2 separate regions of the Homo sapiens genome follow, and region 1 is linked to region 2. The links come from fine-mapping of genetic effects on gene expression. A gene starts in region 2. The other region holds a variant in brackets. All regions are shown on one strand. Distances are between the middles of the regions. Region 1 has its middle 38 kb from the start of UCN3. Region 2 holds the start of UCN3 (urocortin 3).

Evidence for each region. PIP is the estimated chance that this variant, and not a neighbour inherited with it, causes the effect.
Region 1: its variant is the best candidate, but not a certain one, in a credible set for the expression of UCN3 in sigmoid colon (GTEx, PIP 0.57).

Annotation. Positions count from the first base shown.
Region 1 is chr10:5,324,577-5,329,952 of GRCh38, forward strand. No RefSeq gene overlaps it. Among named protein-coding and RNA genes, the nearest start is that of UCN3, 38 kb to the right of the region's middle. The variant G/C (reference allele first, on the strand shown) is at 2,607.
Region 2 is chr10:5,361,886-5,367,261 of GRCh38, forward strand. UCN3 (urocortin 3) reads left to right here and starts at 3,081. Exons shown (of 2, transcript NM_053049.4): 1 at 3,081-3,345.

The sequences.
Region 1 (5,376 bases), 37 kb before region 2:
TTTGTTCCATTGCCTTCTGGCTTGACCAAGCCCCCTGCCTCTAATGGTTGAAGAAATTCCTCTTTCCATGGCATTTGGAGCTAAATCTGAGTTTCCTGAAGGCTGACAAGCCTCAAAGCAGAAAGCCTCTGCCACTGTGATTGCAGACTCCGCGACAGTGCAGTGGGAGGAAGGGTTTGAACTGTGCTCTTCGCTGAGGAACGGGCACTGCCTCCTCCCAAGACTCAAGACAGGGGACACAAGACAGAGGCACAGGTGCTCCAGGGACCTAACACAGGAGTGCTGTTTGCCAGCCTGCATGTGGGTGGGAAGGGGAAGCTGTCCCAGCCCCCTCCGAGTTTTACTGTAGGCTCAATTATAAATCCACCTCACACGACCTCATCCCCTCCCCAGGCTAACTGAACCAGAGCCCTTTCCTTCCCCCTTTGATGGAGATGACCAGCAAAGCCCTTGGCTTAAATGAGTTTCTCTGTTCCTCAGTGATCAGATTTGACTCTGATTTGATTTCAAATGCAGAGAACACAGATAAATCATTGTGCTGCGCTTAATAGAATTGAAGACCTTGTCTCCTGTCCACATTGTGACAGCAGAGAAGGTGGGGGCCAAGGACAGGGGAAGCAGAAACCAGTGAGGCAGAGCAAAGACTGCGTAAGTTCGTGTGGTCATCCCAGAAGGGAGAACAAGACGGTGTCCAGAGCTGCCTTTCTTCCTGCCTGCACTCGAAACCACAGCCCCACAGGGAAATCAATTCCTGCCTCCCCCAGAGACATTATAGAGCAGAGGCGATGATTTCAGTTTCCAGGCCTCCCAGAGCCACCAGCCTGAAGCTGTTCCCCAGCCTCCACTCCAGCACATCCCTGGCTTCCTTTGGCCTCAGCCTTTGGCTACCTGTCTCCCTCCTCTTTCTGTCCAGGTTCACTACCGAATCTCAGTATTTCCTGTCTCTCAGTTTCTTCTATCTCAACTGAGGACAGCCCATGTGACCCTGAATTAGTGCTCACTCAGACAGCCGTGGGGTCCTTAGTCATCTTTCTCTAAAATCTCAGTCTCCACCTCCTTCTAGCCCACTTCCATCCGTATTTTGGCCAAACTCCACAGCTAGGATAGGATTCCTTATGAGCTCAGTGACCTTCACTGAGGCCACTGCACCACCCAGGCTACTCTGGGGGTTGGCATGAAGGATGAGATGCAGGACTCTGTGGGTTTCATCTGTTTTCTTTTGCTGTGTCTTTTACCAAGATGTTGGTCAAGGTTCTTGGTTGCAAACTCTGGATAGCGGATTTGGTTTGGATACTTGTACCATTCAAGTGTCATGTTGGAATGGGATCTCCAGTGTTGAAGGTGGGGCCTAGTGGGAGATGTTTGGGTCATGGGGTTGGATCCCTCATGAGTGGCCTGGTGCCCTCCCCGAGGTAATGAGTGAGTTCTCACTCTGTTAGTTCCTGTGAGCTGGTTGTTTAAAAGACTCTGGCACCTCCTCCTCCCCTCTCCTTTGCTCCCTCTCTCGCCATGTGACACACCTGCTCCCCCTCCGCCTCCTGCCGTGAGGAAATGCTTCCTGAGCCTGCAGAACCAGGAGCCAAATAAACCTCTTTTCTTTATAAATTACCCAGCCTCAGGTATTCCCTTGTAGCAATGCAAAATGGACTAACACAAGAGTTTAAACTGAAAAGGAATTTACTTAAGGATGGTAAGTAGGAGAATCATGATGGTCCACAGAGCTAGCCTCTACTCTAGGCCTCCAGGAACAATGCTCGATCGCACCGTGGGGCAACTTCTGTCACAATTCTGGGGGTCAGTGACTTAGGCAAATGGCTCTTCTGGCCGCTGCTGGGTTCAGTTAGAAATCTGCCACTGACTGTTTACCAGGCAGCTTAGATGTCCTCTACACGTCTCTCTTAGCTCTTTGGAACATTTTCTTGCAACAGCAACAGGAAAGCTCACCTGCATGGCAAGGTCCCAGTGCCTGGAGTCCCACCATTGCCACCTGGCACAGCTGCACAACACGCCCTGTGCTCCCAGGAGATCCCCTGCCCTGATGCGCAGCTGCCTTCCTGGGATGCCCACTTCCCAATCCATGTCTCACAGGGTGGGTGTGGCGTGCATCCATGTGGCGGATCCTAAGTTACATGCCTCCACCTTCATGTGAGCTTTATGGAATCTGCCCTGAGAAAGCAGGATTCCTAATATGGGAAAAGACCTGCTGACTCATGATATGGGAAACAACCAACATCTAGGGAGAATATAAAAAGACGTTGGCAGCAACCAGTGATGAAGGCCCACTCCACCATCCAAGCCCAGCAGCCGACTGTATCGTTCAGAAAGCTGATAGCCCAGGCAGAGAAGAGGTGGCTCTGCAGACTTCCCCAGGGTCCCTGCCTCTGACTCCTGAGTTGGGTCGTCACTCAGAAGCATTCAGAAATGCCAGGATATATCTACATGTTCACTGGTGTCCCAAGGGCTGATCCTCTCCAGCACACTCTCAGAGACGGCTCCGTGACATCCTATTGATCCTCATTTCTTTCATTACCCCTCTGTAAAGAAAGCCTCTTCTGCAGTCCTGCCACACTTGAGTCCTGCACCATGGTCTGGTTTAGCCAGGGGGG[G/C]GCCTCCCAGCCCTCCCAGCCCTCCCAGCCCTCGTGTGTATCTCTGTCATTGTTCTATGAAGCTTTATGGTAAGCATCTGCTTAAGTATCTAACACCATGTCTGTCATGTGAGTTTTGCAGGGCAAGTTGGTTTCCCACTCATCACTATAACCCTAGAACCTCTCACAGTACCCAGAGCAGAGGGTTCGCTTAGAAAATGTTTAGGGGGTGCCCCTTTCATGCTCGCAATCACTTTGATAACATGAGTTCATAGAGGGTTCCTCCATGCCAAATGCTACAAAGGTTATACTGAGGATACGGCACTTCCAGAACTCAGGAGTGAATTCTGCGTCATCGCCCCATGCTCTAGAGAGAAGAGAAGAAATGTATGTCTGGTCCCCTGTACAAGTCAAGCGAGGTGTAGCTTTTACAGCAAGACCAGAAGAGGGAAAAAGCTGCAGCGTCCCCATCAGCACCAGCCCTGAATGGCCTCGGCTCTGCACAGGCCAGGGAGCCAGTAGACTTGTGATCTGACTCCAACACCAAGTGCAATTCAGCATCCCCTTGACTCCAACACTGAGTCCAACACTGAGACCATTCACATTGTTATAAAGGAATACCAGAGGCTGGATAATTTATAAGGAAAATAGGCTTATTTGGCTCATGTTCTGCAGGCTGTACAGGAAGTATGGTGCCAACATCTGCACCTTGTGAGGGCCTCAGGCTGCTTCCACTCATGGCAGATGGCAAAGAGAGCCATTGTGTCCACAGGTCACATGGCCAGAAAGGAAGCAAGAGCGAAAAGAGGAGTTTCCAGGCTCTTTTAAACAACCAGCTCTCCCATGAACGAATCGAGTGAGAACTCATTACCATAAGGAGGACAGCACCAAGCTGTTCATGAGCATTCACCCTCATGGCCCAAACACCTCCCCCTAGGCCTCACCTCCAAACTTGGGGATCAAATTTCAACATGAGATTTGGAGGGTCAAATATCCAAATCATAGCACTATACTCCAAGCTTCTCATCTCAGAGACATCAAAGCAGGGAGCTGGCAAAAACTCCTGCTCAAGTGCATGGCAAGGCAGGAAGTCCTGAGGTTGCACAGCCAAAACATGGCACCTGCTGCTGGATTCCAAGCCAATGTAGAGGGTGGTTGGTTGGATGAGCTGTAAGTTCCACGGATAAAGCTTTGTTGAAGGAGAATTGTTGAGAAGCACAACCATACAAAAATGAGAAGACTAGGAAGAGCTCCTGGGACAGACAGCCCTCTCTTTCTGCAGGTAGTCTGGCAGTGGGAGAGTCAGACAGTGGGCAGATTCCTTCAACCAGCCCATACCTCGTTCCTGGCCATGCAGAAAGCAAAATCATGGCCCCTGGATGGTTTTCTATTTATTGGCCCTTTTAATTATTTCATAAGAATTCAGTTAGACCTGATGTTATAGACTGAGTCGTGTCCTCCCAAAATTCATACACTGAAGCCCTAACCTCCAATGTGACCGTATCTACTTGAAATAGATCGTATCTATTTGAAATAGACCATATCTATTTGAAGACAGAGCTTTTAAAGGGGTAATGAAGGTTAAATGAGATCATAAGAGTGGGTCCTAATCCAGTAAGACTGGTGTCCTTCTAAGAAAGAAAGCGACACCAGAGGTGCATGTGCAGAGGAAAGGCCACGTGAGGACCCAGCAAGCCAAGGAGAGAGGTCTTGAGAGAAACCCACTCTGCTGGCACCTGGGACTTCCAGACCCCAGAACTGTGAAAAAAAAAAAAAAAAGTGATTTCTGTTGTTTAAACTACCTGGTATTTTGTTATGGCAGAGTCCTAACGAACTAACACACTTCGTTCCACTCATCTTCCGTGAGTTTCTCCGTGTGATTTGGGCCTGGAAATGGAAACAGACAAGTCTGGCTAACAAAATTTGTTTCATTGACCATCTATACTTCAGCATATTCCAGAAATGTTTTTTAAAGGTGTCATTTTTTAAAGTATGGCATAATGCTACCGAATCTGAAATCCAAAAACAAAATGTTAGAATTAAAAAGGAAAAAGGTTTACATGACTAATATAATTGCTTCCATGATATTTGAATTTGGGCATCAAACTCAGCTTGAGGCTTCCTGAAGATCAAGGCAAAAGAAAAAAATTGTGTTAACAAAATTATAATCATCTGGAAAACCGGTTTGCTCTTCCAAGAGCAAACCAGTTCTTCAAGATAGGAAAGGTAAAGTTCTTCAAGGTAAAAACAAATTTTTTTCTATGATCACCAGCAGTCAATAGCATTAGACCCTTTGTCAACTAACTATCTGTGTAAGGCCTGGGAGACCCTTGAGGTCGGAGGTGGGGGAGGCTGATTAAGAGTTTCAGAAAATGAGCCTGGGTATCTTGTATCATTAATTTACTCCCTTAATAAGTTCAATCTGGACTCTTTTTCTCAACCCCCTCATTGTCAAGGTAACCCAACCCCCTTCCCCTTCCTCTAACTCCACCCAGCCCCATCCCCAATTATGTCAATGGCAGCGGGGAAAAGCGAGGGCAGGGGAGAGCAAGAGAAGCTGTGGGGAAAGGAAATTCAGCATGGAAGTGGAATAAGTCAGCCGACCCTCCCATTCTCCCACCGCCATAGCCCTGTCAGCAACACACAGAAAGCTGAAGCAAGACACAGGGAGCAGGCTGGGCACGCTGAACTCACCTTCTAGGAGTAAACTGCAGTTCACTTCACACACATCTGTGAAGTGGGCTTCATCTGTTAGACAAACTCACTAGGCTTCCATTCCTTCACTTACGGT
Region 2 (5,376 bases):
ACTTTGCTAATTCTCTCGTCTATCTTTATTTTACCGCCATGCTCAGATGTTGAGGAAATAATTATGTTATTAAGTGTAAGTGCTTTGAGCACTTTGGAGAAATGAGCTTTATAAATATGAGCCATTTCTATTCACCTGAGAAGCTGATCAGCTTTTTCTTCTCACCCTGGCCCTCTTTGTACCCTCTACAGGACATTTACATCCCTGAACAACATGCTCATGCTGAGTCCACGGAAGATACCAATGACTCACAAAGGCCAGAGAGAAGTGCAAGTGTAGAAACACGCCACATTCACACATCAGCCATGGGGAGGGAGGGAAATCGTTGTTTGCTAGAAATGACACTCCAGAGGTTTTGCTACTCATCATCTTCTTGCTGCCCAAGCCTCTGTTCAGTCCCCCACCAGATGCGTCATTCAAGTTGTAAAGCAAATGTACTATTTCTTGACATTTCTAGAAAACTACACCCTGGACTGCACCCTTACAGCTGCTCATGTCCATGAAACATTCTGTGTGGAACTCCATCCAGGCTAGCAGAAGTCACTGGACAATGCCAAAGCCCACCCAGGATGGACCAGTGGGAGCCGATGAGCCTGCTCTGTGTGACGAAGGGACGGCAGGCTCCAAGAACAGCCACCAACACCAAGACCCTTCAGTCCCAGCGAGGTGGCCTCAGGGTAGGAGGATTTCTAGGAAGTTCAGAGGAAACAAGGTAAGAAAAGAAGCCAGGGTTCATCGTCTCTCTTTCTAAACCCCATACTGTAGGGAAGTGGTCCTCATGCCCCCAGAGGACATGTCTGGAAACATTTTTGATGGTCACAGACAAAGAGGGGAGTGCTACTGGCATCTAATGGGTAGATGCCCAGGATGCTGCTAAATTCCTCCAGAGCTCAGGGCAGACCCCAAGGCCAACAAGGAATTACCTCACCCAAAATGTCAACAGTGCTGAGGATGGGAAACCCTGCCCTGGGAGACCAACGTTGCCAGATCCCTGGCATCTCAGAGCCCATAAGGCAGACAGGAGAGTTAAACTCAGGTGGAAATCTACCCCTCAACCTGCATAAATTCCATTACTGCATCATTATCTGAAATGGAAAGCAGAACAAAAACCTCACAAAAACTAGAACAAATGAATGAATGAAGGAACTAATGAAGGAATGAACTAATGAATGAATGAATGAATGAACTAATGAATGAATGAATGAAGTAATGAATTTGAATTGAAACACAGATTCAGTTTCATGTTGCCTCCAATCTCAAGAGGATCCTAGCCCAGGCAGCTCTGAAAGAAGGAAGAGAGGGAGGTCCAATTTCCTATCTCCATAAAGAGACTTAAAATGGGGAGTACAGAGTCTTGAAGTCCTTCCCCACAACAGCTTTCCATTTGTTCCTCCAAATGCTCATGGGCTTTAAAGAGTTTTGGTAATTTCAGAAGACCTCTTACCTCTTCACCTGCAGGAATTCACGAGAGTGGAGCAGCCGTCTGGGAGGAGGGCTAGGGACAGCCAGCCGGTCTTGCAGGGCCCCTTGTCATCAGCTCAGCCCAGTGAAAGGAGCACTGAGCCCAGCGTCAGGCCTGGTTCTCACCTGACTCTGTCACCCTGGGCCTGTGGGGTCCCAGCAGGTCACTTTTTACAGCCTCAGCTTCCTCATCTGTGAATAAGGGGTCAACAGACCGTAGTCTCCCACATCTCCCCATTACATATGGAATAAACTCCCAACTCCGCAGGCCTTTGGAGCACCTTAGTGCAGAGCAGCCTCTGCACCCACCAACACCTCCCTCCCATCGTCCTCCTTCTCTCCCGTTCCTCTCAGCCCTGGCTCAGTCCATGCTGATCCATCCTTTCTGTCTGAAACCCCTCCTGCTCTCCTCTCCTGTCTTGAGTAGACAGGACTGCTCTCTTCTGTAGCATTTTTTACCTACCTTTCTTTCTTTCTTTCTTTTGAGATGGAGTCTCACTCTGTTGCCCAGGCTGGAGTGCAATGGCGCCATCTCAGCTCACTGCAACCCCCACCTCCCAGGTTCAAGTGATTCTCTTGCCTTGGCCTCCTGAGTAGTTGGAATTACAGGCACTCGCCACCATGCCCGGCTAATTTTTTTTGTATTCTTAGTAGAGCCGGGGTTTCACCATGTTGGCCAGGCTAGTCTTGAACTCCTGACCTCGTGATCTGCCCGCCTCGGCCTCCCACAGTGCTGGGATTACTGGCATAAGCCACCGCACCCAGCCTTCCCTACCTTTCTAAACCATGAGGCCCTGTATGGTTAGGGGCCACAACTTACTTATCTCTGAACTCGTGGGTGTCTTGGCAATACCTGGTACACAGTAAGTCCTCAATAAATATAGGATGCATAAACGAGTAAAATCCAAGCCATTTCCCACTAAAACCTCCAGACCTCTGGTGTATGATGACCTGCTGTCATAGCCCAAAGGAATGGTTGAGTTTCAGGTATCCAGAGAAAAATGCAGGTGTAGAGCTTTCCCCTCAAACGTATTAACAAATAGATGGTGCTCAGTCATTTTCGCGGCAGGCTGCAGAGAAATCTTAAACTTTCGTGTTGTTTCACTGAGGGTACGGCAGAAGAGCCCAAGGAATGTGAAAGGAGAAACTTGCATAATTAGACTTTATGTGGGGAGTAGGCACCGAGTGTGTGACAAGCACAAGGGGCTACGTGTGCGGCCAGATGACGCTGCACGGTCAGAACCCACAAAACAACACGGCAACAGGTGGATTTTAAACCCCTTCTCTGCTTTCAAAGCAGGTCCAGGCTCTACATTTACAGAAGGAGAGTTAGGGCAAGGGGAATGTGGGGGAAACTGAAATTAGTTAGAACTAAGATCAGCAATAAAATTCTTCAAAGACACTGCTTCTCACTTTACCAGGATTTTTGTTTTGTTTTGTTTTGAGTTTTTATTTCTTCTTTTTCTTTTTTGTTCTTTGCTTTTATCAATGAAGCAAGTTGCTAGGATGCAAAAGGAGTTGGGGGGTAGAAGGGCGGGGTGGGAAGCAGAGGTGGGAGGGGTCGAGGTTGGAGCACCTGTCGTCTGCATGACGTGGACGGCTGGTTCTGGTTGTATTTTAAATGAAATCTCATCCCAGCGTAGACACCACGTCTGGAATTACGATCCACCCTGTGATCTGTCACTTTTATATACACACAGGGGAGGGGACCGTTTCCATAGAGAGGGAATATCACAGCCCACTTAGGAACAATACCGGAGAAGCAGGAGCCGAGACCCCGGAGCAGCCACAAGTTCATGGGGACGTGCACGGGGCCGCCCTCCTGGCCCTGAAGCTGCGCCGGCCTCCCTGAGCGTTTCGCTGCGGAGGGAAGTCCACTCTCGGGTAAGCTTGTGGCTGGGACTGACTTATGAAGGGTAAATGTATCTGCCCTAATTTAAGCAGGAGGTGCCATGCACTAGACAGGTGTGAGAGATGAGAGCTGCTAGCGCCCCTGGGTGGAAGCCCAAGGGAGCGATGCTGAACGCCCCCCACCCAATCAGCAGAAATCAGCCCCAAAGGGACCAGGGGAAGTTTCTCAGGGAGGCACAATCACATTCCCACGTTGGTATAGAGAGACCCTCTTTCCAAAGGTGTTAGATCAGAGGCAGAAGGTGTTCACACAAATCTGTTTTCTCTGAACAGAGCACAGCTGTGCACAGGAAAGTCAGTCCTCGGAGACAGTTTACAAATGGGGATGGGGTAGGGATGCCGGGGCTAATGGGAGCCACAGGACATGACTCCACGCCGCCTGCAAAGCAGCGAGGACACCTGCACTTACTGTTTACCTGTGCCACAAACCTTCACCTGTGCCATCTCCCGTCACTCTCGGGCACACCTGTGAAGCAGGTAACGTCTCCTTCCTAGGACGCGGCAAGTGAAATGCAGGTTAAGGGATTCACCCAAGAAAAGTCAGAGGCAAGGGAGTTTCCCCAGCCAGGTCCTCTGCCACCAAAGCCCAGAGCCCTTTGCCACACTAGGAACATTGCGGGGGTGTGTGCAGATACCTACAATGGCTAACTCCTACCTGTGAAGGGGAGATGGATGTTTGATGTTTATGTTTTCTGAAAATTCCTGTTCGCAATTTCTTTCCCAAGCATAGCCACCTACCAAAAATAACAAATGTGAGATTTTTAAAACGTTTTAAGTGGTCTAGTTTCAGTTTAACTTCTTATCAGTGTTTGCAGACAAACGGAGCCCACAGGAATAGCTCTGCACTTGGCAGAGATGTGTGATCAGTACTGTTTGCCTCCTGCCTTTGCTGCTTCATGTCCTGTCCTCTCCCTGTGAGGTGCTGGGAATTGGAGGCTGACCCAGGTCCCTCACGTTTCAGTGCTTGGCTCTGCCACAGCTCCCAGAAGTAACTGTGTCTCTTTACAGCATCCTCGACAAGTGCTACTGTCACCATAGCCCAAAGGAATGGTTGAGTTTCAGGCACCCAGAGAAAAATACAGGTGTAGAGCTTTGCCCCTCAAATGTATTAATAACTAGATGGTGCCCAGTTATTTTCGTGGCAGACTGCAGAGAAATCTTAAACTTTTGTGCTGTTTCACCAAGAATATGGCAGAAGAGTCCAAGGAATGTAAAAGGAGAAACTTGCAAAATTAGACTTTATGTGGGAAGTACAGAGTATCTTTTCTTCTTTGGGGAGAGTTCCTTTTCTTTTATCCTATAAACCCTAAACAAATCTAAACAGATCCTAAAAAGAAAAGTCCTGGAAAGAAATCTGAATCTACCTTCCAGCCCCCAGCCACTCACACACTTTGATGGTGAAACCATCCAGGGTTGCAAAGAACCCTTACATTTTAAACGATCTAAAACTAAGCTCAGCACCGGGCGTCCCTATCATGTCCAATTCACAGTTCTGGGAGGTTCCTTTGCTGTGTAACTTTGCATCATTGCTGATGGTAAGGGGACACCTTTCAATACCCTCACAACCGTGTGCAGGCTAGAGCTGAGGGTTTGCAGAGAGAGAAAGGTCTGCTACCTGCAGATGCACCAAGAACAGAGCGCCACGCAGGACACTTGCTCCCTGACACTTTCACAGATTTTTCCACACCTTCAGCACCCTAGCCGTGATTACAGTATTCTTCTCTGATGGTAGACTTGGGATTTGAAAAATAAGAAGGTAATGCATTTTTTAAAAGGCACAGTATTTACAAATTGACCCCAAAAATGTGAAAAAGTAAATATAGAGGTAAAAGGGATCTCACTCCCTCTCCCCAATGCCTTGCTTTTGTAACTGAGATGAGACAGGTAGCACTTCCAGGGAACACATCCAGAGGCTAGCCCATTGCAAGGGAAAACCTGAACTTTTTCACAGGAAAATTGCAGAAAGTTACTTAGACGAGGCTGTTTCATGTTCAGAAGCCCTCA